Linked DNA regions of Homo sapiens: all the other regions are reported to be linked to region 4. Evidence: microRNA targets listed by miRTarBase, many of them from high-throughput screens and not tested one by one. Region 4 holds a microRNA gene; each other region holds the end of a gene's coding sequence.

The links. The annotated mature microRNA hsa-let-7c-3p reads CUGUACAACCUUCUAGCUUUCC and lies in region 4 at 2,217-2,238, shown strand. An mRNA with a match to its seed (bases 2 to 7 or 8) in the 3' UTR can be bound and repressed. Matches are read on the target gene's strand: a 7mer-m8 pairs with bases 2 to 8, a 7mer-A1 pairs with bases 2 to 7 and ends in A, and an 8mer does both.
Region 1: miRTarBase lists NIPBL as a target of hsa-let-7c-3p. Seed matches in the 3' UTR shown: 7mer-m8 at 4,453-4,459.
Region 2: the mRNA of CKS2 is a reported target of hsa-let-7c-3p. Seed matches in the 3' UTR shown: 7mer-A1 at 462-468.
Region 3: miRTarBase lists ZBTB41 as a target of hsa-let-7c-3p. Seed matches in the 3' UTR shown: 7mer-m8 at 3,238-3,244.

What each region holds. Positions count from the first base shown.
Region 1 is chr5:37,064,281-37,069,356 of GRCh38, reverse strand. NIPBL (NIPBL cohesin loading factor) reads right to left here. Exons shown (of 47, transcript NM_133433.4): 47 at 2,944-4,830. The coding sequence ends at 4,465. Among named protein-coding and RNA genes, the nearest start is that of CPLANE1-AS1, 180 kb to the left of the region's middle.
Region 2 is chr9:89,316,047-89,321,122 of GRCh38, forward strand. It overlaps CKS2 (CDC28 protein kinase regulatory subunit 2), which reads left to right. Exons shown (of 3, transcript NM_001827.3): 3 at 327-657. The coding sequence ends at 379. It overlaps SECISBP2 (SECIS binding protein 2), which reads left to right and starts at 2,454. Exons shown (of 17, transcript NM_024077.5): 1 at 2,454-2,566; 2 at 3,606-3,751. The coding sequence starts at 2,531. RefSeq lists an enhancer at 2,104-2,323 and a silencer at 2,494-2,813.
Region 3 is chr1:197,154,756-197,159,831 of GRCh38, forward strand. ZBTB41 (zinc finger and BTB domain containing 41) reads right to left here. Exons shown (of 11, transcript NM_194314.3): 11 at 1-5,076. The coding sequence ends at 4,604. Among named protein-coding and RNA genes, the nearest start is that of ASPM, 11 kb to the left of the region's middle.
Region 4 is chr21:16,537,667-16,542,742 of GRCh38, forward strand. It overlaps MIRLET7C (microRNA let-7c), which reads left to right and starts at 2,162; the gene lies at 2,162-2,245. All of the region lies in intron 6 of MIR99AHG (mir-99a-let-7c cluster host gene), which reads left to right. It overlaps MIR99A (microRNA 99a), which reads left to right and starts at 1,423; the gene lies at 1,423-1,503.

The DNA of each region.
Region 1 (5,076 bases), not on the chromosome of region 4:
GAAAAATACTTGTGTTTTCAATATAAGAAATTTGCAAGGAATAAAAAGACATGAGAAAGCCTACAGAAAGGACCTAAAAAATATGACATTTATGAGAAAATAAAAAATTTAAACACTTACTGGATATTTGATATCAAGGAAGAATATTTAAAGATAACCTATTTATGGGGCTGGGCACGGTGGCTCACGCCTGTAATCCCAGCACTTTGGGAGGCTGACGTGGGTAGATCGTGAGGTCAGGAGATTGAGACCATCCTGGCTAACATGGTGAAACCCCGTCTCTACTAAAAATACAAAAAATTAGCCGGGCATGGTGGCGGGCGCCTGTAGTCCCAGCTACTCGGGAGGCTGAGGCAGAATGGTGTGAACATGGGAGGCGGAGCTTGCAGTGAGCTGAGATGGGGCCACTGCACTCCAGCCTGGACGACAGAGCAAGACTCCGTCTCAAAAAAAAAAAAAAAAAAAAAAAAAGATAACCTATTTATGGATAAAATAAAATGATGCCTGAGACTTGTTTCAGAAAGAGTGGAAAGGGGTGCATGGAGTACAGCTCAAATAAATTTGGTCAGAAATTCAGAATGACTGAAACAGAGGAATGGGTAAATGGAGATTCTCTTAAAGTAAAAATAATTTACAAAATTCTTATAAGAAAAATAATTGTGTACACCGTACCACTCTCAGCAGTGAAGCCATATACAATTGGGGTCTTAAAAACGAAGGGTGGCTTGGTACTCACATCATCATGCAAAACACACAGGAACTTTATGACCACTTAGTCAACAGAGTACCAAACTGAATTTGTTTGGTCAGTGACTTTCTATTACACTAAATTTGCATGTAATTGTTTCTCGGCTAGCACCAATAGGACAGACTGTATTTCAGAAAAAAATTCAAGTGAAAAATTAGTAAAATCATTTTGTAACAAATGCTGCCTATGACAAACATTAGCTATAGGACTAAACAAACTTTGGTTTTAAAATGAGCAAGGCAAACAGCAAAAGGTTCAAACACGTAGGATTTTTATGGGGCAAAAATTACTATCAAGTGTTTCAAATTACATTATTTCAAGTGGGTAATCTGATGAGTTTTATATTTGCAAAAGTAATCTTATTCCAATTATCCATATCCACAGTTCTGAAGATGCAGACCACCTGGACACAGGTAGTGACAAGGATGAATTTTTCTGTGCAACTAAAAGTGGTGGGTAGGGGAGGGAGAACCACATACTTCCCTGGTTAATTTATTTCTAAATAAAAATACGGTAAATTTGCTTGCTGATCATGAAATCTGTATTGAACAAACATCAGTTTGACTTACCTGTTTTCATGAGACAGACTATGGTCATAAAAATCACCTGTGTGCTTCAGTTACCTGAATAATTCAAATACTCAACCTATCAACAGAGTAAGCTATATATTTCTCTCAAAAAACTCAGCATTTCTTCCATTAGAGATTACTACATCTAGAAAATTCTAGAGATCACTGAATTTTCTGCCATGTGTATTTTGGTATGAACATATTTTTAAAACTAGCCATTCTTTCTTAATAAACAATTTCAATAAGGCTAAAATTTCATATTAATGTACTTAAAAAGTGAAGAGATACTTGAAAATTTTTATATCAAATATAACCTATCTTTTCAAGTCAATATAACAAGATTAATCTATGGTAATTAATCAACACACTATAGAGTAAGACTGAACTTTCTAAATACTTAATAGAACTTTGTGAATCCCCAATATACTTAAAGTTTGATTTTGTATATTTGACTGCCAAAGCTTTAATAGTGTTAAGACCTAACAATTCATCTTGAAGAATCTTCAACTTTCTGAAAATTTTGGTTTGTATATTTAAGAGTTAAGGCTTATATTAACATTTGGCTTCTATTAACAGATAAAATAGGAGCTTAGAATATATACAAAATTTCAAAACTGATTCCTAAAATTCCTAAATTTCTTTTTCTTTTTTGAGATGGAGTTTCGCTCTTGTTGCCCAGGCTGGAGTGCTATGGCGTGATCTCGGCTCACCGCAACCTCCGCCTCCTGGGTTCAAGCGATTCTCCTGCCTCAGCCTCTCGAGTAGCTGGGATTACAGGTATGCACCACCACGCCCGGCTAATTTTGTATTTTTAGTAGAGACGGGGTTTCCCCATGTTGGTCAGGCTGGTCTTGAACTCCTGACTTCAGGTGATCTGCCCGCCTCGGCCTCCCAAAGTGCTGGGATTACAGGTGTGAGCCACCGTGCCCTGCCTAAAATTCCTAAATTTCTAATGAGTGGCAAACACAGAATTCCATCTATGGCCAACTGAGGCAACAGAAGACTTACTACTGTGTACCTACTTCCTAAAAATTACTCTGAACAGGATTCCCAAGTATGTATACTACAAGGATCCTTTAGGAACTGGTTTACTTCAATAAGGATCATCTCTCTTAATGTCTGATGTTCAATTAGCTTAGAGTAGTGAGACACAATTACTTCAATTCCAGATTTAAATCCCTATCATGACATTAGTAAATTACCAAATCCTTCTAAGCCTGCTATCCTCATCTACAAAATGAGGATAAAATATATAACGAGAGTTTTTGTGAGAATTAAATGACAGCATGCATCACTGTCACGTAAATAGAATTCAAAACTGGCTTTTTACTCACATTTACATTCTTAGTACTCTCTCTGGGCTGGATTTTATTCTTATATTTTCTCTAACCAGTACCCTTTTTGATATATTATTCTCAGAAGTGACCTCAAATCCTTTGTTGATATACATAAACTCCAAGAAGAACCAACCAACCAACCAACCAACCCAATCTAGTTTTGTTCCAGAGTTCACAGTATAAGGAAAAGAGAAACATGTAAGTAAGGGGAACAAAACGAAGAGTGAGAAAACATTTCCGTGAAGAAAGCATTTGAAAGAATTCCACATAGGAAATAGATCCTGAAAAGTTATTTTCATAGTGGTTTAATAGGTGTCACAAAAAGGTATTTTGTGGCAATGTCATTCTTCCTCAAAAATTGAATACCTTCATTTATTTGCCAATTTCATAAAACAGCATTCTGGAGGTCAATTTTTTCAAAGTGATTTAAAAATAAGTAAAACATTTTTAAAAAGAATTAAACTTGAAACAGACCTCATCCACTGTAAATTTTAGGCATTACTATTCCTGAGTGTCAACTATACATATCAAATGATTAAACACCTCCCTCCTGATTTAGTCAAGATATCTGCAGTAAGTAATGTGTAAATGACAACTGTTCCCAAGACTTATGATAAAAGCTTTTAGCATAGATTAGAAAATGAATAAACATCTCAACAAGTAAAATTACTCTTTTCAGCATTAAAAAATAATTTGTGAAAAATGTAGTGAGTGTAATTATGAAGTGTCATATTCATCTCAACTCTAGTTCTAAAATAACCGGACATCATTTTAACCAAGAGAAATGCTGGTTTTCCAAATAACAGGTTACCTTTACCCGAGGTTTAAAGAATAAATATCAGCATCATGACATCACTAGAAAGAAATTGAAGCATACAAGGAATAAACTATAGTTTCTTTTTATATCAAAATGTACTCTTGAAAATGTGTTTGGCACAGTGCTAAATCATATATAGTTAATACTAAATATTGCAGGATACAATAAAACCCTGGAGTTAATTGTTTACACCCTCTTATGGGAATGAAAATAATAGATACCAATTATTCAGAAGTCAGCCTATACAAACTGTATAAACAATATTTTATGTTTTGCTTTGAAAACCAGTGATATAATAAATTTTACATAAAAGACTGTAAAATAATATAAATGGATTTAAACAGATTTTTACAATAAGAAATTCAAATGGAAACAGACAAGTAACAAAGAGAAGTAAAAAAATTTATTGCAGTATTCGCTCCACCAGATTACCTGGGGATCCCTTTTCTTGTATTGTTTTCAGGGTGACCTAATACATCAAAATCTACATTTACAAAAACTCCTTCTGCAGATAGGTCATAGATACTGCATGCTTTTTTTTTTTTCAACAGAATAAATTATATATCCAGGAGATTCTGCCATTTTACAGCCTGGAAAAAACAATGCTTCCCTGGAAACTGGGCTAAGCTAAAGAAAGCCATCCGCTGCTAGGTTAAACTCCAAGAACACTTTATTAAGAACATTAACAGACTAATTTCCAACATTCACTTGTTTATTTTTTTTAAACAGAAAGTTTTTTTTCCAAGATATAAACAATTTTTGTTAAACTATAATACAGTGGGAGTAAAAATGAACTGAGAATCTGTTTCTGCTGCACAACAGCGAAGGGAGCTCCCACAAAAATGTTTGCCCAACATTTCCTTCTTTTGTTCCTGCATCCCAGGTTCCACTTACTCTTCATAAAACTGATTTTTTTTTGCCAGAATGTTGGTATTTCAAGTTTTTCTGCCTTTTAAAAAAATTCCTGTAAATTTGGCTGCATGTACAAATTCATTAGCTGGAAGTCCCATCCTTGGCGGCATACAGGGATCGTAAAGTCTGAACAACTTTATTAGTCAGCTTATTAGCACTCGTTAGAGCAATTTTTTTGTAAATAATGTCTGACTCTTTAATAGTGTCTACCCAAGGCACCAGTTTGCGGCCATCACGGCGCTTAGCCTCAGTCCAGGAGCCACTGTAGGAGCCTGCCATCCACTGAACACTGAAGCCACTGCTGGTTTTCTGCACTACTCTTGCAATTTGTGGTCGATCTTTGTACTTTGGACAGCAAATAGCGATGACATCCATGACGTCAACACTTTCATTCATCTGTGCTGCCAACTCCGTAGAGTCTGAATTTCGTTTTGACCTTCTCAATGACTAAAACATTGGGAGGGGGGAAAAAAGACCAAGTGTTACACAAAAGAATTTTAGTGAAATTATTGTTTTTATTGCTTTTAATCCCTTGACGCCGGGAGTTGGGATTTCCCGGCACACTTCCATTGCCGGCAATGAGACGCACCGTGACCGCCAGCGCCAAGGGGTTAACATATACTTGTAAAACCATATAACTCTTAATTTGTACCCGTGTCTTTACTCTTATTGATATATAAAATTATATATACA
Region 2 (5,076 bases), not on the chromosome of region 4:
GTCCAGATAATACAAAAGCAACTGAAGAACTTAAGTGTAGATTTCTGTGCCCCACCTATTGAAACAGAATCTATGGGGATGAGCATTAGTATGAGATCCTGTAGGTGATTTGAAGGAGGTGTTTTTCCCTATAAAGAGGTAATCTTTTTACTTTTAATCTATTTACTGTAGACAGTAACTGTGAAAAAAAAATCATTTTGGATACCTCAAACCAATTAATAGTGGACTTAGTTTATTTTATTCTGGCTTAGTTGAGAATACTTTTGAATTTCTGTTGAGTATATGAAAATCATATTAAAATGATTCAAAACATTTTCTTTCCACAGAACCACATATTCTTCTCTTTAGACGACCTCTTCCAAAAGATCAACAAAAATGAAGTTTATCTGGGGATCGTCAAATCTTTTTCAAATTTAATGTATATGTGTATATAAGGTAGTATTCAGTGAATACTTGAGAAATGTACAAATCTTTCATCCATACCTGTGCATGAGCTGTATTCTTCACAGCAACAGAGCTCAGTTAAATGCAACTGCAAGTAGGTTACTGTAAGATGTTTAAGATAAAAGTTCTTCCAGTCAGTTTTTCTCTTAAGTGCCTGTTTGAGTTTACTGAAACAGTTTACTTTTGTTCAATAAAGTTTGTATGTTGCATTTATCACTGTTTCAAGTTTTTGAGGTATATTTTCTTAATTTGTGACTATTGAAATTTGTGACTATTGAAATTGATTTCAGTGTTATAGTTTTAGCTCTGAGGAAGTTAACTTACCTTAAAGATGATGTTAAATGAGTTTAAAATAGTGCGGTATGATCTGGATACCATTTAATTCACTTAATGAAGAAATTAATTACCAGGGATATGTTTAAACTAAAGCCAAAGTAGATTTTACCTCTTGAATTCCTGGAGAATTGTCTAGAACAGGAAAGCCCAAATTAATACTATCTGGGCTACTTCACTGGCCACTGGTGGTCTTGGGAGAAACCTCTTTTTTATCCTCTTCTACATTTCCAAAGTAGGGATAATGTTTCCTATAAAGTATCACCACATTTTTAAAAGTTCAAAAACACTGTAAAACACCTTTGCCTTTTTAGCTGCTAGGAAAGTGTTTTGGAGTTATTCTAATTAATTGCTATGCTATAGAAACATCTTAAATGAGCAGCCAGCATACATCAGGTCCATTGGTTAAGAAAGGGTGTCTTTACACATGAGGGCAATAAATTTTGAAGGTTGTGATTAGCAGCATCCTAAAATCTACTGCCACTACCATAGGTTGTGTCCAGGGTAACCAACAGAAACATGACAAAATCAAGTAAACTTCATTACACTTCCGGGTAGACCCAATAGTGCTGAAAGGAAGGCGACAGCTACCCCTAAACTTCCAGCATAAATTCCTGCCAGACCAGACCCTAAGGATCACTTCTGCTAGAGGCTGTGTAGTGAACTGAGACCCACCAGGACAGAAATCTGAAAAAACTGGAGCTGCACCTGCCTTACTTGCTTGAAATACTTCGTATTCAATGGTAGAGTTAACGTCTGTGCAAGGGACAGAGGAAACCTACAATTTGCCTCAACCTAATCCCCATTCCTCAAATAGCCTGTTTTGCTGACATTTTCTGTTCCTTAAATCCACTTGCACTTTCCTCCAAGCCTTTGAGTGAGAGGAAAGTTCCTCCTCCATCTATTGAAATCCACTCTGCATTCTTCCCTGTACTTTTGGTCAACCTCCTATCCCTGCCGCACTTTATACATTTCTCTCAATATTTAACGAATTTGCTCTGTGTAGAACTTTTTTTTTCTCGTGAAAATTATACTATTCCATCTCTTGACCATATCTTAGCACTTTTTTTAATTTTTGAAAGAAACCGAGCGATTTTTAAATTATTTTCTGTGGCTACTTCCAAACTTAAGGTTTCTGGAAATTTAGGATACCATCAAGAGTCTTGTAGGCTTTCCAGGTTTGTAGGACCTACAGGGTATGCAATTCCTGTAAGTCACCAATCTTGGGGAAATTTTAGGGAAATGCAGTGGCGGGGGTGAGAGTAATCTCGGCCTCCTCAGTTTCCTTATTAGTAAATCTTTCTCTTCAGGTGACTGCTCAAAGGTCACCTCAGCGAGAGGCCTTTCCAGACTACCCCATCCCGTCCTAACGCTAGACTCGTGAGGCCCAGGGGAGAAAAGTAAATCACGGCCTAACTCTTGTTTATAGTCGCTACTGCCTTGGTGGAGACTATCTCCGATATCCCAGCACTAAAAGGCAGATCCAAGACTCCCGCAAGCTACGGTGGGTCCCCAGCCCAGAGGACTCCTGGGGGTCCCCATTTTCCGCAAGCGCCCCACTGCCTCCACGTGCTGCCCGCGCAGGTCCAGTGCCGCCGCCGCGTACTTCCGGCCGGAAGAAAGGGCGGGCTCTGTCGCTTTGCTGTGACGCACTTCCTGGCGTCGCCTGCGGGGGCGGAAACGCTTTGTCTGTCCGGCAAGCCGACGGCCCGCTGCTGGCCTCCGTGACGCGGCCTCCTCCGCGCCTCGCGGCATGGCGTCGGAGGGGCCGCGGGAGCCCGAAAGCGAGGTAAGGGCCGACGGGGGCTCTCTCGGCAGCCTCAGTCCGTCCGCCTGCCTCGCACTGGGGGCTCGGCCGGGCGGTGACGGGGCTGGTCCAGCGGGCGTGGGTCGGATGCTGGTGACGGCACGGGAGCGCCCTACCGGGTGGCCGCGATCTTCGCGCCCCGCCTCGGGTCCGCCTTGGGGTGGCGGTCAGCGGCTACAGACCCCGCCCACAGTTAGCGCCGCGTCTGTGGTGCGATGTCACCCAGCGCAGTGACTGCGGCCCAGCCCGGCGCTCCCCGCAGTCGGGGCGGGGGGACTCTGGCGAGCTTCCCGCGCTCTTGGGAACGGATAGATTGTTTTAAAGGATCCTGCGTTTTTCTGAACGTCATTCTCCGCTCTACGTACTCAGCATTACCACTAGATGGAGCCCTGGCGATCGCTTGCATCATTTTTAGACCCATAAAATTCTCGGTGAAAGTAAATCTCTTACTACGTCACTAAAAACTAAAGAAAGAAATCTTAGTGAATTGAAATTTCAAAGGCTCGTGGTGATAATATTTTCTAGCAAAGCAAGGTTTGGTATTTCAATAAAGCAAGACTTAGTGGTTCATGAGTAAAATGCATATGCTTTTGTGCAACTTTTTCAAGAAAATGTAATGGAAATAAACGTCTGCAGTGTGTTTTGGGTGCTGTAGTTAAACAGTCCACGTGTATTTGACTGCAGTAGTTGTACTGTGTGCAGTTCTATTATTTCTAAGTGAATCTGTGGTAAAAACACCCTTATTCCAAGATCTAAACTATATAATCTGTGTTGTTTTATTTCCACTTGAATTCGTTGTCATTTTTCACTTTTAATGTTTGAACTACTGCCTTTTCTACAAAAAAAAAAGCATTGGGGAGAAATCGTTAGCAAGCAGGTTCTTGTCTTTACGAGGCAGAAGTTTTTAAACAACATCGGGAACATTTCTGGGGCTATTAGGAACACCTCTTGGGTCTTTTTGTTTGTTTATATTTGCTTGATCTCTGAATGTTTGTGGCCAAAACCTCATATTTTTCCTCAGGGCATCAAGTTATCAGCAGATGTCAAACCATTTGTCCCCAGATTTGCCGGGCTCAATGTGGCATGGTTAGAGTCCTCAGAAGCATGTGTCTTCCCCAGCTCTGCAGCCACATACTATCCGTTTGTTCAGGAACCACCAGTGACAGAGTATGTATCTTTCTAAAAGTCTTACCTAGGGGCTTACATTTTGGATTTAATGGTGATTAGACTTTCAAATACTCAGCAGTTACTGCACTAAAGTTCTGCAGATGATGAGAGAATGCTCTTCAACCAAGAAGAGTCTGAGCCAGTAGCACAACTTAACTGTATCCTGTGCCAAAAACAGAAGCTTTAACTCCCCTTTTTTTTCTTCATACTCATTGTTATTTTCGGCAAAGAAATAGTAGAGACTGCATTGCATTTGTTAATAAGAAATGCAGTTTCAGGCCAGGCGCTGTGGCTCACGCCTGTAATCCCAGCACTTTGGGAGGCCGAGGTGGGTGGATCACCTGAGGTCAGGAGTTCAAGACCAGTGTGACCAACATGGTGAAACTCCGTCTCCACAAAAATACAAAAATTAATCAGGTATGGTGGCGGACACCTGTAATCCCAGGTATTCGGGAGACTGGGGCAGCAGAATCCTTTGAACCTGGGAGGCAGAGGTTGCAGTGGGCCAAGATAGCACCACTACACTCAAGCCTGGCTGACAGAGTGAGACTCTGTCTCAAAAAAAAAAAAAAAAAAAAAAAAATCCCGTTTCAAGGTTCATTTGTTCATATGGTTTAAAAATATATCATATATCTAATGGGAGATGAAATGTGGAGGGAAGGGCAAAGAAAGGACCAAATAAACGTACTCCTCCTTTTTAAGGTTAACATTTTAAAATCTTGTTGAGCGAAGGGGAGGGGACTAGCAACCATAGCTGCCTCTGTGTGGATAATTTTTTGGAAATTGTTGACTTTTGCTTTCCACCTTTTTACTTTATATCTGTTAATATGGAGATGAATTTTACACATTTCAGGCTTAAGTTCTTCTAAATTTGAGTTGAAAGAAGGCTTACATTTTTCCTTACATTTTCTTTTTCCTTCTCAGGATTCATTCTCTAGGTTTACAAAATGGCTTCCTCTTGCAGCTGAATTTAGACAAAAAAAGTATTAATCTTTCACATAATTGTGTAGATTTATTTGTAGATCTGTTTTTAAGATTTGCATCAGGTGTAGTTCTAATCTAAGAATCCTAATGCTTTTTTCTTCTTTGATATGATTCTAACTTGTTTCCTTTTATTTGTGCCTGCATGATGTAATTGAAAATAGTTTGTACTGTATATAAATTCTAGAATTATATTTGCAAGAATGAGAATTGTAATGAATAAGAAAATGATTGAGTTGTCTTTTGTGTTTAGGAAATACTGAAAGTTGTATTTTTTTGACGAAAGTTGAAACACTACCTTTATATGCTGGAATTTGGTCTTTGGTAGGAATACCCTATTTTTC
Region 3 (5,076 bases), not on the chromosome of region 4:
AGTTTCTAGAAGTCGTTTAGAAAATTATTCTCACATTATCCATTATTCACTCTAACAGCAAGTAGCATTTACTATAACACTACTTAAAGTTTTAGAAATGCTACTTGTAGAATACATTTCTAGGCATTTTAAATTTGGCACTGAATCTTAGAATATCCAAATACAACCTTCTTTAAAGTCCTAATTTTTCCTGAGTTGATCAACTCATTATATATTGGTTGGGATGTTGCTGCTCCTAATGAGAAACTCATCTCAAACCATCACCTCTTGTTCAGTTTTAGGCAAACTGAAATAAGGTCATTCAGTGCAGGGCTGTGTAGTTATGGTTACTGGTTATTTAAAAGACAGAGAAACAGAGACACAGATGCAGACACACTACTCATTTTATTTTACTTGTCAGATTCCTCTAATAAGCATATAGAGACAGGCCCAAGAGTGGCTTCACAGTAACTATAAAGGCCACAACAGAGATTTTTAAAATGATATATAAATCATAAAAACAAATATTCACACTAACACTTAGTGCCAATTTGCCTATATAAACATAAAGCAACCTAAAAAAAAAAAGTTGCCCAACCAGCAGGCAACACAATCATAACACCCATAACCAAAAAAAAATAAAAATAAAAATCTATTAATCAGTACAATCTAGCCAGCAGAATCAACTCTAAGCAACTACAACACATCGAAAAGGCACAAAGCATTCAATGCAGAAAAGACTGGGTATAAAAGGACACTGTCAAAGAGCTACTGCTCAAAATCTGACATTTCATCACTGATATATGAGAGTGATATGGTAGGAAGAAAACTCAAGCTTATAAACATATTAGTTTAACTGTGTTTTTAATTTGTTTGCAATTATATTGAAAAGCAACCAATGATAATTACTTATTAACCCTTAATTAGCAGTTTAGAGTCACCCTACAAAGATGCTTTGACACTTTTTAAGGTTGATAGAAAATTATTAGTGTACCTATTTCATGACCTGCCATCGCCTAAAAGGAAGTCACCTAATAAAGCACCAATTTAAAACCATATTTTTGCTACTCCTATTCTCCCAGCAATAAATGCCTTAATTACTTAAATGTATGCAAAGACTACTATCTTTACAGTTGGTTAAATCTTGCTGGCATAAGGACCAACCCCTAACCTTAAATGGGATTTTAGGCTGCAAAAAAAATAGGTTGGGTTTCTTACAAAAATAACCTCAACTTGACTTAAAAAAATTCGAAGGCAAAAATTATTTTGATAGTGTAGTGTAAAAAATAGGCTTATTTAGCATTTAGTAGTGTTCTCTAAAAAACATAACATTGTATTAATTAAACTAAGGAAAACAGTATTCTCACTTATAATTGGTTTGTCAGTATGACTATTCCCAGAGTATTTTCTTTTGCTCCTATTTTTATACATATAAACACAATAATCAATCTCAGTATTCAAACTAACAACTTTTTTTTTTTAAAAAAATCCATTATTCTAGGACTTCAACTGTGCTTCTTTGGACAAATAGTTATTCAAGCAAGAAAGAATTTAAAGTCTTTTAAACTATTTAATACCTACTAAAAATCTTTGGTGCATTTAAGTCAAAACCCATTAGATTAACACATTCCTGCACTTGATAAATTATTCAATTTACAGATTAAGTGCTAACTGCTATCTGCTAAAAAATTAATTTAAAACAATAAATTATGCTCACAAAATAAAAAAATTCTGAATGAGGCTAAACTTAGTTGCAAGATTCAAAATTTTAAGTACAGTTACAAAATAAATGGATTAGAGTTATAGAGCATTTGTCCAAAATACTCTAAATCAAATATTACAAAAGGTCAACTGAAAAGAATAGGCCTCCTTTTATACTTTTTGTGCCAACTTTTGTCAAAAGCCTATATACATTCAGTTTGCCCAAATCCATGAGGTTTTCACAATTGTAAAATTTCTTACATTTTTGGAAATTAGAGGCAGCAGATTAGTTTCATTTTGTTTTTGTTGTTGTTGTTTTCAATCATCCACTGAAACTATTACTTCACCAGAATTATATTACGCATCTCCCAGACTAGGTTAAGATTAAATGACAGGATGTAGTACCTGGCACATAGTAAGCATTCATTAATGCTAGCTTTCTTCTTTCCCTACTAGTAGCTCTGCCACCTACTGACCATGTGAGCTTAAATGAGTCCTTTTATCTTAACCTCAAATTCTTTATAAAGTGGGAATATAGCTTGTTTTTACTATTTCAGGGCTGGTTATGAGGTTCAAATGAGATAACATATATGAAAGCATTTTATAAAACAGTAAATCACTACTCAAGTTTAAGTTATCTACAATAGTAACTAAATACAATTATATTATTATATTTCACTTTACTAAGAGATGTATTCCAAAAAAGTTCTGTGTAAACCAATTCCTACAATTAAATCATATATTTAAAGCATTAGGACGGACATTATTATTAAAAGAACCCTAAAGTAAATACCTTCAAAAATCAAAGTATTCTTTTCAATGTGAAAATGCAGTATCTTCTTTTTCTGCCACCAAATGTATAATATACCATATACATACATGTATATAAATATATATATACTATCTGCCTTTTTATAAGTCTAAACTTTTCTACATTAGCTTATATGTAAGGCAGGCTACATTTTTATGTATGATTTCTTTCATTATAGTAAGATTTTTAGTTATAATATTGCCAGTCTTTATGATGAAAATCATAAAGATATGTATTTTTAAAAGTCAATTTGAAAGACTAACAGACTAACAGTACCTCATATAGTCAACCTCAATCATGTAAGTACCCCAGATATAACATTTCCACACAAAGAAATAAGAATACTTTAAAAAGGAGAACATAGTAAGTATGTCCACTAGTCTTAAGACAATTACAACCAAACCTTGACAAATGAGGCTAAACTCAGATTGGTTTTATTATTTATATGAGCTACTTTGGTTAACTGCCTCAGTTTTCAATATTTCTTTTGTTTTACCTCCGCTAGTATGGCGAATGTTGCTGTAAAGTACCTTTATTTCTTAAGTGCTTCAGCGACAGTTTCCGCCATTACTAATTGATTAAACTTTATTCATTAAAACTTCACTGTTTTATTTGTGATTTTTTTTTTCACAAGGGCTGGGCTAGACTTTACAGTTTACACACACAAAAAAAGTGCTTAAAGCAATTAGGAGTGTAAACAAAACTGAAATAGAAAACTTTTAAAACTGCTATTTTCTACTAGTTTATGTACAAATGACATGCTAATAATAAATCAACCCTGTCTAGTCTAATCTTCAAGCAACTCTACTAGGAAACATTATCTTAGTTTTTAGTTAAAATTGACTTGAAAATATGGAAAGTGCATGTCTTTAAAGGTATTTTATAATTTTGACTTTTTCCTCAATTGTAATCACTGAGGTTTTGCTGTAACTGCTATTTCCTTTCACCAAGTCCTCAACTTTTGTCTCATACAGAAATAAAAATTAAAGGTTAATTACAGACATTAGGCTTTTGTGAAGGCAAAATTAAAGATCTGGATTGCATGTAAATCTGTATATAAGTAGTGGTTCCATTTAATTAAACAATGTTAAGTTAAATTAGGCACAAATTTCATAATCTGTTTGGCACCTTTTCTAACAATTGAACACAAAATATCTAGGTTCTGTTTCCCAGAGTTTCTATCAGCCAAGTAAATGAAATCAAAAGTAGCATGTTTAATTAAATTTCATTGAGTTACAACTGCTCTTTTCTTAGTGAGATGAAGACATATGCTATGTTGTATTGTCAACATTTCTGAAATAAATAGTAAAGTACAAAAGGTGAACTTACCTTGAAAAACATCTAGTTAAAACTCTCATATTTTTCTTGTAACACATTTTCAGTTTGTATAATTTAATGCCCAGACCTATGTTTGCCTTTCTTATTCATAACAATTGAAGTATAGGCAAAAACCAATTATCTGGATTATTATTTCAGTCCTACAAATAATAGCTAATCTTACATTAGTTAAGCTTTCTGGCTTTGAGTATATCAAAAGTCCAAAGGATAATGATAACCTAAAATTATGTATGAATGGAAAGACAACACAGAAATATCCAAGGCATTCTTGTAAATTCAAATTCCTAATTTCAATTTTAAAAATTTGTATAACGTAATATTGAATCTTAGGATAAGAAACAGTTGCAATTATCAGTGTACTCTTAATTCCTTCTTAAAGGCTACATGGTCCTCAAACTTGTTTGTAAGAAGGGCTAGGAAGAAGAAGGAGAGGAATGAGACTAAAGAAGAATAAAAATTTCCACTGATGATTAAAAAAAATACTTCCATAATATCAGCAGCTAATAATTGCAAAAAATTTAAGAAACCATTAAAAGTTAGCACTAAATAATCTTTAAAAATCACAAAAATGTGCACTTCAAATATTATGCCAGAAATTTTGTCCAAATATTCATGTTCAGTAAACAGAGACACATAGTTTTCTTGATTTGAAACTGTTCTGAGGACTTGAGAAACTAGAGAAAACAAGAAAATAGCAGCCCCACAAATTTAAAAGCTATCATCTCTACCATTAGCATATAACCATCCAAAAATCTGTGGAATGTTTAGATTTACTCATGAATGATGCTCATTCGTAGAAATATTTTGAACACCAGTAGTGCTATCAAGGCCCAGTAATGTTCCAAGATAAGATTGTTCTCTAGGATCTAGCATTTGTTCAGGTCGAACTGGGTGAACTATATTTGCAGGTTGAGGAGTAAGAGTATATTTTTCCAGAAAAGCTAAATCCGCTGCTCGTGGATAATCAGTTGACTGTGGCTGTGGTGACAGAATCTCATGAGAAGATGGTGGGAGTGTGGTAGTATGACGCACTAGGTCACTCGGAGTGTCAGGCATCTGAACTGGAACCAGAGTTACTGGAACACATACTTCAGCAGATACATTCTGTAACATCGTCTTGGCTTCCGACTGATAAACTTTGGGCTGGTCCATATATTGTTTTGTTTCTGTTTGAAAGATTTTGTCATCAGATGAGTACTCAACTGGCAAGGATACAAGTTTTTCCTCAGAAGTACTGAGAGGATCAT
Region 4 (5,076 bases):
TCCATACGCTTAAGATAGGTGCAATACGGTTTACTAGAAAGCTTTATAGGAAAAGAAAAAAATTATATTTTCTTATTTGTTGTACCATATAAAAGGAAGTGAAATCAGGAGGAGGGGAATAAGGTCATGCTTTTTCATCTTTTTTACATGACCTGATAAGACAATGAAACCAAAACATGCTTTCTTATAGTTATGGTAAAACTAAACCCAATGCTGCCTCTTATTTCACATTTGCATTTATAAATATATGTTGAAATATTTTTACTACAACTGAATGTATGATTGTTGATTATTTACTATAGTTTTTAATAATTATGAGGACAATTTAAGAATAAATAATGGTTTAAAATTATGTAGAACACATGATCTATATAAAGGCTATAAAACGTATTTATTTCAAAATATGCAAAATCACTAAGCAATTAGTATGTAGTATTATTTTACACAATAAAGATATAATTAGGAAATGCTAAGTGATTATAGATGTGAAATGATTAATGATTGTACAACTTATCATTTTGTTGCAGTTGAGTTTACAATCTTAAAAAAACGTGTATGTGGCTGGCTTTATGTTTACTCGTTTGTGTGTTTGCTTGTTGTCTGGTGGTTTAAAACATTTTTTAGTAATATTTTATTTTTGCCCAACCTGTTGACCAGATGAGAGTTGTATGTAGCCATGCATTTTAAGTGTATCTTTTTTGAACAATAAGTTTAAATATATTTTATTTAGGAAAGAAGATATCCTATGTCATGTAATACATCTGGAGTATAAATGTTAGTGTGGAGTATTAGTAATCATGCCATTATCGTGCCATTTAGTTTAGTTTTATATTAACTCATCCAAATATTGTAAATTTTAGCACCATTCCGACTATAGACACAGATGTATATATTTAAGGCTGATAATAACTTCCTGTATTCTCTAGCTAGTGAACAAGATCTTACTGTTTTATGAGAAAGTTATAATGTTACCAATTCCTTGAAACCAGTAACTAAACTAGTTTTATAAAAATTAAAATAAGCACGGTCTAACTCATACACAATTAACTTAATAGTTAATTTGGTTTTAATTATAGGCTCGTAATACTACATTCATGCCTCACAATTATATAATTCATACATGCATGTATGGATTCTTTTTTCTTTTAAAACTCAATTAGAATAGTTTAATTCCAAAATATTTACTATTGAAACAAAAGCAGTTCGTGAAAAATTTTTCAATAAACTACTTTTTAAATTCTCATGCATATAAATTTGTATTTAGTTTTGAATATTTATGAAGGCCTTTAATGGAGAATATGCATCCTTAGAACTCAGCATTTAAAACATTTATACTAAAGGATCAATATTATTTTTGACTCTTAATTGCATCAGATATTTACAACAAATTCTATATTAATAGGGGGCCCATGCAAGATGTTGCCCATTGGCATAAACCCGTAGATCCGATCTTGTGGTGAAGTGGACCGCACAAGCTCGCTTCTATGGGTCTGTGTCAGTGTGGTAATCTGACAAAATGCTATACACAGTGCCGTTCAACAATAGTTCAGTAAAATCCTGTTAAACTCCAGTTGATTATATACTTTTGAAGTCATTATATTTTCCTTTGTTTTTAATGTTTATTTTAATCATTGTCTGTCTTACAAGGCAGGCTTCAATTCTCAACAACTTGGAAGCGTTTATATCACACCCATTCAAGTTCGATTCCATGTACAGTAAATTGCATAAGAAAGTTGAACCTTTATAGCAGGGTTTGGACCAGGATCTGAATAGATTCTGTTCAGAAACTTCAGTGCATACTGTAGTGCTTAGTGTACCTCTTCAACTTCAGTAAGAAAATTAAAGACTACCATTGGATTTATATGTTTTTATTGAGCCTATTTCTCCTGAAAAAATGAGGCTGAATGCAATTGACTTTTACTATTAATTGCGACTAGAACTATGGCAGGTTAGATGGTCAGAAGACATTTTACGTGACCTATGCTGGAAACCCAAGTGTTTAGGTTAGTCCTATGAGAAACAGTTAGCAGCAAAGTTTACTGGTAAAATGTTAGAATATTATATCTATATCCTTGCCAAGCCCTTAGGTGTATGGCTGCCATATTTGGAGGAGCTGACTGAAGATATGATAAGGAGTTTGAAGCAACATTGGAAGCTGTGTGCATCCGGGTTGAGGTAGTAGGTTGTATGGTTTAGAGTTACACCCTGGGAGTTAACTGTACAACCTTCTAGCTTTCCTTGGAGCACACTTGAGCCGTCGAGGAATTCTTCATCACTTTAACCTGATTGAGCCAATTTGTGTGCAAGAAGGTAATGTGTCATGAGTATCTTGGATCATTGATTTGGGCCTTTATTACATTAAAATGATCATTTCAGCCCTATTAGATTATTCCATTTGTATCTGCTTATGAACAATGTCAAAATGGTATTTCTAATGGGTTGTCACTCCATGTTCAAACATTTTAAGAAAATTGTAGGTAGTGACTTAAATTGCATTAATATTAAAGCTTTTTATCATCTATAGATTAACAAAATTCAGACCTTAATTTTCAAATGGATCATTGGTCTATTTATATTGGCTGCTTAGACACTATAATAAAAAATGTCTGCTAGAGTTAATAGCTCCCATAGCACATTATTTGCGTTTTCCTTATGACACATCACTTTCTACCTTATGTTATGGCTATTTATGTGCTTGCTGATTTTTTCCGCACTAGACTGTAAGCCCCTTGAGGGCAAAGTCCATGTTTTATTTTTCACTGTATCCCCTCCAATGCCTTACTCATAATGAGCACTAACTATTTATTGGATTAGTGAATGGAGTGTAAGACCTCACTCTGTGATGAGTTTCTATTGAATATTTGAATGAGTTATGGCAGTGGTCAAACATCTGAGTTTTATTTATTGCTCCTAAAACTGTTTAAATTTAATTCCTGGACTGCTCCGCATCAGTAATACATGTGTCGATTTTTGACTGTGTTGAATGTGTTCATTCATTCTAAACAGATAAGTTAAAATTTAGAAGTACTTTTTATCTAGAATAAAAATAATAGAGTAAATTCATTTTTACTAATTAGTTCATGACAGTTTATGATCCTACACTTAGATAATTCATATTTCTGTTGAATTTAAATACCTTTCTTTCCAGATGAATCGTTTTTCTTTTAGCATCAATTTCAACTAAATATTCTATTTTAAGTCTCATTTAACAATATGATTTTTAAAAATTAGATTTGTGTCTTTTGTGTATTTCCCTCGTCTCCTGCCCTTTATTTTTGTACAGCTATATCTGTTGAATAAACCAGAAGCAACTAAACCAGAAACATGTCAATAAATTAATAATAAATATGTATATAAAGTATAATTTGAGAATGTGAACACATTTTTGTTTAAAGGAAAGGCACTTTATAATATTCTTTGTGTTACAAAGCAAATGGGACTCTTTGGAACCTTAGTTTGCTGTCAACTTTAGCAGCTGTTAGTGGTGTAATTTGTGTAGTGAGGCTATCTTACATAGATCATCTTTCAGACACAGGATTAAGTAGTTGTTGATGTTAGAACTTTAATTTAAGACTCCAAATATGAAACATGGAATTCATTAAAGAGACGTTTAGATGCAAATATATATTAAGGACCTCAAGATACTGGCTATGTGGTGCTGACCTTTCTAGAATGCTCAGGCATCCAAAATATCTTAATACCTAGAACTTGCTAACAATGTAGTGAAGAAGGAATGGCTACCCCCAACACGTAGAACATGTGAGCCTTAGAAAGTGAATACCAGTCACTTCAAGCAAAATAATTTGATTGGTCTACAGTAGTAAAGACTCTTTCTCTCTGTGAAAGAAAAATATTTGCAAGGACTAATCAAGAAGCAATGAATAAGAGGCAGTAGACATAGACCTAAAACAAACAAACAAAAAGACATGAAGAGATGAAAAGGAAAGTGACTCATAGCAAATAGGAACACCATTGTGTCTAATGATGGCAGTTCAACCCACGGATGAAAGAAAGGGACAACTAAATGGGTAAACAATTGTATCTTTATAAATAGTTTTTTCCTTGAGAGCCTAGGATCCCTTTCCTATGTGTTTCTATGTATGTATCTCCCAATACTAGGTGTATTTATTTAGAAGCCAAATCTATTGATGGGCCAAATAGAATATGATTGCCAATAAATGTCTATTTCCTTACAGTGTAATGGAGTTAAGTGCCTCACAGAGGTCAAGTAAGATGTGCAGTTTAAGGATAATCTTACAAAAGTACTATAATGAATTGTTAGAATTACAGCCTCTTTTATATACTATCACCTAAAGTGAATGAGTATAATAGAAGAATAATTGAAGAATGGTGAAGATGTCTCTATGATTCATTATGTTAGTTATGTAGAAATCATAAGAAAAAATCTGACCAGGTGTGGTGGCTCATGCCTGTAATCCCAGCACTTTGGGAGTCTGAGGCAGGTGGATCACTTGAGGTCAGGAGTTCGAGATCAGCCTGACCAAAATGGTGAAACCCCATCTCTACTAAAAATACAAAATTAACTGGGCATGGTGGCACACACCTGTAATCGCAGCTACTTGGGAGGCTGGGGCAGGAGAATAACTTGAACTCGGGAAGCGGAGGTTGCAGTGAGCCTAGATCATGCCATTGCACTGCAGCCTGGGCGACAGAATGAGACTCCGTTCTCAACAACACAAAACAAACAAAACAATAAGACAGAAAAAAACCTGCAAGGTGGAGGATATAGTTAGTACCAATGAAGAAAATTTTTAAAACTTCTCTGTAGGACAAGAACACTACGTGGAAGAATTGTATGTTTGCCTTTGATTCATAATAAATTTTGCTACTCCAGGTATGAGGGCTATGTAACTTGCTACAGGTTTATAAATAAATGGCAAATGTCAGATATAGAAATTGATAGGATTTTTTGAGAAACCAAGATATAGGACCACTGCTGATGTCAGTAATTAAAAATAGTTAAATTATGTCTAAGAAATCAAAGCGAAAGATTGTTCATATAGAGGGCTTATGTTCAGCTATGGGGAAACAACTAACCAGACTGAATAATTTCCT